Regions from separate parts of the Homo sapiens genome. Here region 2 is linked to region 1. A link means that fine-mapping ties the variant in region 1 to the expression of a gene that starts in the linked region. Tissue or cell type: tibial nerve. Region 1 holds a variant in brackets; the other region holds the start of a gene. All regions are shown on one strand. Distances are between the middles of the regions. Region 1 overlaps C1QTNF7-AS1 (C1QTNF7 antisense RNA 1). Region 2 holds the start of FGFBP2 (fibroblast growth factor binding protein 2).

The links. PIP is the estimated chance that this variant, and not a neighbour inherited with it, causes the effect. A credible set is the group of variants that fine-mapping cannot tell apart.
Region 2: it holds the start of FGFBP2, and the variant in region 1 is the best candidate, but not a certain one, in a credible set for the expression of FGFBP2 in tibial nerve (GTEx, PIP 0.63).

The regions. Positions count from the first base shown.
Region 1 is chr4:15,392,935-15,395,846 of GRCh38, forward strand. The region is part of intron 1 of C1QTNF7-AS1 (C1QTNF7 antisense RNA 1); the gene reads right to left. It also overlaps a transcript of C1QTNF7 not described here. Among named protein-coding and RNA genes, the nearest start is that of C1QTNF7-AS1, 34 kb to the right of the region's middle. The variant T/C (reference allele first, on the strand shown) is at 1,495.
Region 2 is chr4:15,961,551-15,964,462 of GRCh38, forward strand. It overlaps FGFBP2 (fibroblast growth factor binding protein 2), which reads right to left and starts at 1,625. Exons shown (of 2, transcript NM_031950.4): 1 at 888-1,625. The coding sequence starts at 1,579. The coding sequence ends at 908. RefSeq lists an enhancer at 1,655-2,496.

The DNA.
Region 1 (2,912 bases):
GCTGGTCTGGGAGACACACTCTGATATAATTTGACTGTGTCCCCACCCAAATCTCATCTTGAATTGTAGCTCCCAAAATTTCCACGTGTTGTGGAAGGGACCTGGTGGGACATAACTGAATCATGGGGGTGGTTCCCCCCATACTGTTCTTATGGTAGTGAATAAATCTCATGAGATCTGATGGTTTTATAAGGGGAAATCTCTTTCGCTTGGCCCTCTTTTCTGTCTTGTCTGCCGCCATGTAAGACATGCCTTTTGCCTTCCACCATGATTGTGAGGCCTCCCTAGCCATGTGGAAATGTGAGTCCATTAAGCCTCTTTTTCTTTATAAATTACCCAGTTTCAGGTATGTCTTATCAGCAGCATGAAAACAGACTAGTTTCCCTCTAGCTGGAAACAACGTGGGTCCCACACTCTTCTGCAGGCCATTCTGCAGGACTCTTCCACTGTGGTAAGAACCTACAGGCCCCAGGCTGCTAAATCTTAGAAGGAGGCCCCCAGGAAAGCTTAATCACACTAGAAGCCAAAGGTTCTCAACCCTGCCCTTTCTCAGAATCATCTGGGATCACATTAAAACGCAGACTCTCGAGCCCAACACCCAAAGATCTTTATTCTGGAAATGTGAAGTAGGGCTTGGGCATCTTTGCCTTTAACAGGCTTCCCTGGAAATTCTGAGGACCAATGGATTTGATCATCACTAATCCAGGTAGCTTCCTTGCTGTGTGACCTGGGGTAAGGGAGTTCACCTCTCTAAGCCTGTTTCCTCAACTTTAAAATAAGGCAAACCCACCTCTTCCACAGGGTAGTTGTGACAACTAGACGCCATGAGAGCACTAGCACCAAGACAGGGCTACTCACTCATTCACATGTTTGTTGAGGCCTACTATGTGCTGGGCCCTTTCTGGATACAAGAGACACAGCAGTGAACCAGACAGAAACTCTGTTCCCACACAAGCCTTCCTTTCTAATGAGGATAGACAGATAAGAAACCAGTAACCATTTCCTACATCGTATAGTGACTGCATTAAGGGGGAAGTAAGGGCAGAGGGGGTGTGTAGGGCCAAGGCAGGAGGGCTCTATTTCATATAGCAGGGAAGGGAAAGGCTCACAGATACATGAAGTTTGAGCAGAACCCTGAAGGAGATGAGTGAGAGAATGAGCCTGTGAAGGTCTAAAGTGTAAACATTCCAGGCTGAAGGAAAGTCCCATGCAAAGGCCCTGAAGTGGGAGCATGTTTGGAACACTTGAGGAAAGTACGTAAGGTAAATGTGGTTGGGGCAGAGGTGCAAGGGATGATAAGAGGAGCTGAAGTTGGGGTGAAACCCAAGGGCAGATTGTATAGGCTTTGCCAGCCTTCTACATGGAGAGTGAGCTCTCAAGAAACAGTGGCTAAATCCAAGACAACCAAAATGTGCCCAGTAGGGGAATGCCCAGATAACTTACAATCAGCTCATACTGCAGAATGCTAGGCAGAGAAAGGTATTCACCACATAT[T/C]GTTTAGTGAAAAGAGCATGTTGCAGAAAATAGGTATGTTTGGATTCCATTTCAAAAACAAATTCATCCTCATATGTGTACATGTTTGTGCAGAGTCTCAAAAAGGTGGAAGAATGCACACACAAAAGTTTGAACAGTGGGAATCCTTGAGGAATTGGGTTCAAAGGAAGGGATCTGTGTGTGGGGACTCCCACATTTTACTTTGTGTAATTCTATATCATTTTTGGTTTTACGACAAACATATTTTTTATAATTTTCAAAAATTACAAACATGTGTTGGATTCCGATGGAACTAGACTCTCTACTCTTCACATTTTGGGGATCACAGGAGAGATGATGGTGGGTATCAGAAGGTCTTGAACCATAAGGCCTGGCCCTGGTACTTTTTTACCTAAGGCATCCCCAAGTGCCTTAGGATAGATATCGGCACCCAAGGGGATTCTCATTATTAAAGACAATTTGAACACCTCAACTGTTTCCCAAAAGAACTTGAGTAGGACTGTCTTAAAATGTACCTGTGGGATTTTAATTTATGGAGGTGATTCAGTGACAACACAAACAGACTAATGCCATTGAAAGAGAAGTTTTATAACTTATATTTCCCAAGAGGAGGGGGCACACCATGCCACACAGGGCCACATGGGAAAGAGCCTGGCTGGTCAGGGGGCAGAAGGGAGAGAAGAGAGAGCCTGGGCCAGAGCCTTCACTGTGTTTTCCATGGGAAAAGCAAGACAGGGCAGGATAAACAGCTTAGGACTGGCTACTTGGAATAAGTCTGATGGCTTTGGAGCATAGGGACTGTCCCTAGTTGTCTGGTGCCTGGCCCTGGGGTGATTTAGGGAAGAGGGAATATTGGCTCCATGTGTAAGAATTCCATAAAAGAGATGGTGGGGGGCGTGGACTCTGGATTGGTGTTTTTGCATTTAAAAAAAGAGTGCTCTTGGGCAAGCCCCCTTGCTTTCTGTAAGAACTGGCTATGCCTGGGAGGTGCAGTCTCTCCCCAGTCAAATGCCAGAGCATCAGGAACACAGAAAACAAGAAAAGATAGTTAATACAACTGGCCCTGTGATGAATGGATGCCAAATAGACACAGACTCTAAGAAAACAAAGCTGTTACAACCACAACCCAGTTAAAAGAGGCCAGTATACTCAGACTCGTAACTCAGACATTCTCTACCAGGAGGCATGATGGGCTGGGAGCTGGGGGATAGTGAGAAAATAGAGAAAGGCAGGGCCGAGGGAGGGTCCATTGTTCAAATGACACCGAAAAAACAGCAGAAAATTGTAAGACCTACTCTGTGCTGAGAAAATACAGGGCACCTTAGATATATTGTCTCTAACAATCAAACCCTTTGAAACACATATTAGTATCACCATTTTACGGATGAGAAAAATGAAGCTGGGAGGGGTAAGTATCC
Region 2 (2,912 bases), 570 kb after region 1:
AATCTGCTTTGTTCCTATTTTTCTTACATAGATAATATGAAAAAAACTCAGAAACTCTCCTTTTAAACTCAAAGTGCACAAGTAAGACTAGAATCCCATGTAAATGAACTCCTTACTGGTGTGCAAAATTAATGAAAGCTGCTACATTTAAGGATAGAGATCAGTAATAAGCCTTATTTCCACAAGAAAAAGTTTGGTCTTTTAAAAGCAATACTTGGAGTTGATTAAATCTGTTATTATTAATTAGATTTTCTCCTCTGTGATGAACAAAAAACAATTAAAGGCTTTGAGAGCTGTGAGAAAGACTTTAAAGACTATTTGACTCAAACTTTCCTCAGTGCACAACACTCCCCACCCTAACTTGACTGTAGGAGAAAAAACTGAGAACAAGACGGGGTGTGGCGACACCTCCACCATGACATAGCACCTCGGCCACTAACAGCTGCAGCAAATGCTTGGTTCATTAGGAAACGTTACCCGGCAGAATTCCAAAGGCCTCGGTCTAACAGTGAGGTGGTTCCATCACAAGGAGATTCTCAACCTTGGCTGCACATTCAAATCACTTGGGGGAGAGTTTTAAAAGTCCACATTCCTGCGCTACTATGTTGGAGACATAGATGGAACGGTCTGGCGAGGGGCCTGGGCATCAGCATTTTTAGAGCTCCTTGTAGGTGATTCCTATGCAACTCCAGGGTCAAGTGCCACTCCGGATGAACTACCTCATCTACACTGCTCTGCAACAGACAGCCTCAAACCCACCCCCAAACACACGCTGAGACTCTGATGTGGTCGCAGCAGCTGTGAAAGTGCTAAGTGCCTCTCACGTAGTCTCTGTATATAAGTATATACACGTAGTCTCTGTATATGAGTAAAGGAAAGGGTATTACCTGTAGGGGTCTTTCACCTGTCACCCTCGGAAGAAGCTGATGAGAAAGGCGCACAGGGCCTGGAAGGGTTTCCAACAATGTTCCCAGGCCTTCTTCTTTGCTTCCTCATTCCCTCCGGGCCTGGGTCCAGGCTGGGTAGGTTTGGCTGTGGGTCGGGTGGTGGGTTTGGCTTTTCCCAGCTCTTCCATCGAGTCCTTTCCCAGCTGTGTTGCTTCTGTGAGTTTCACTGTGGCCTTGGGCCTCAGAGATGGCGTCCCAGCCTCAGGCTGCTGGTTGGGCTCTGGGCTGCCCTTGAGGCTGGAAGTCACCTGCTGCATATGGGCCTGGGGTCCAGCCTCCCTGCACACGGATGGCCTAAGCACCGGGGCCCCCTGGCACGCATGGTGAAGGCGCCTCAGCTCCTGCAGGGCTTGATTCCAGTAAGGTTTGGGGTCAGCAGCGAAAGCCTGGCACATGCTGGGCTGCCCCCTGTACTCACACCAGTAGGTCTGGTCTGTGTTGCGGCAGTCGACACGAAGCCAGACTTCTCCAGCACCTTGCCCCAAGCTGCTGGGACGCATAGTGCAGGAATCTCTCCCTCCAGTCTGGAAATGGAATTCCTCCCCAGTGCTTCCTTGCTTTTGCCTCGGGGCCTGACCCAAAGTCCCCAGGCAGGACAAGGTCACCAGCAGGAGGCAGGGGACGAACTTCATGGCGATACTCCGATAAACTTGCTTGCAACTCTGCACCAGGAGAGAGAACACAAGTGGGACGAGTCACCCTTTAAAGGGTGCTGCACAAAAGACTCTTTCTCTGCAAGGGTGGGGAGGATGTTTTGCAGCAAATGAGAAACATGCCCACAGACCTTAGACACGTAACACTTGGCAAGGGCAGAGCAGCCACCAGGGGCCGCCCACCACAAGCAAAGGGAATGGTTTTCCTGAGTGCCTCAGAGAGATCTGCCCCAGCCCTGTCACGCACAAAGCGCCACACACAGCTTTGGGGCTGAGGGTTTTACAGTTTTCCAACCACAGGGTGCTTGCTCTAAAATTGGCCCTTGTACGGGAACAGCCTTCTTTGTCAACATTTGGTATATGCCAAGGTGTGGCAGTGGTATTCTGGAAAGTGAGGTTTGCAGCTGGGAGTCTGGGCTGCCTCGAGGCTCCCTCCTGCTCCCTGGAATCCCCATCTTGGGGGACCATGGGTTTAGTTAATCCAAAGGAAGCCAGAATTTTATGAGCCTAAGTGTTATGAGATGGCCTAGCAAATGCAAAAAAGACTATGTGAGGTTGTGTGAGGATGTGTGTGCCAGAGGGACACAGAGACACTCCCCCTCCCACCCACCGAGCTGAGAGTCACCTGGTGTGGCCTCTGTGGGGCTGTCCCGCCATCACCGTGGCCACAGGCCACAGTGCTGCAATGTTCACTTCCCTTGTTATTGCATGCCTTACAATTGCACCAACTGAATGATGACGAGGAAGGCATGCAAATATATGTTCACAGTGGGATTCAGTCTATTTTAGACCATGAATTCTATTTCAAATTCAATTGAAATAACACAGTTTTAATTATATCACAGGAAAATATGATTTTAAATATTATTATTATTGTTCTACAATAGAAAAAAAATAAATTGAAAATAACTTTTGATTCTGTGTCAAGAATCATAGTTTGGTATGGTCATAACTGTCTTTTGATGACCCTTCCAGAGGGCACTGTGGAGTGGACTAAAGGTGGCAATTTGCTGTTAGGAATAGGGTTGACGGATGTTGGGGGACTAGTTTGAATGTGAGGGATTTATCTTGGCGATCCCACGTAGGGTAGTTGGTACCTGGCACAGCCTTCCTTCCACCTGGATATCCTGAGTCCTGAGAAGACCTAGTAGGGCTGGAACTAAAGCCAGGCTGAGCTTCGGCAGCCACTGTGTGTGTAGCAGTGAGAGCCTTCCAGAAGAGGGCATCACCCCAGGTGGGGAGCAGAGGAAGCTTCCAAGAAGTGGTGCCAAACCTTCAAGACAAGTCAGTCAATTTGTCAGGTTGAGAAAGG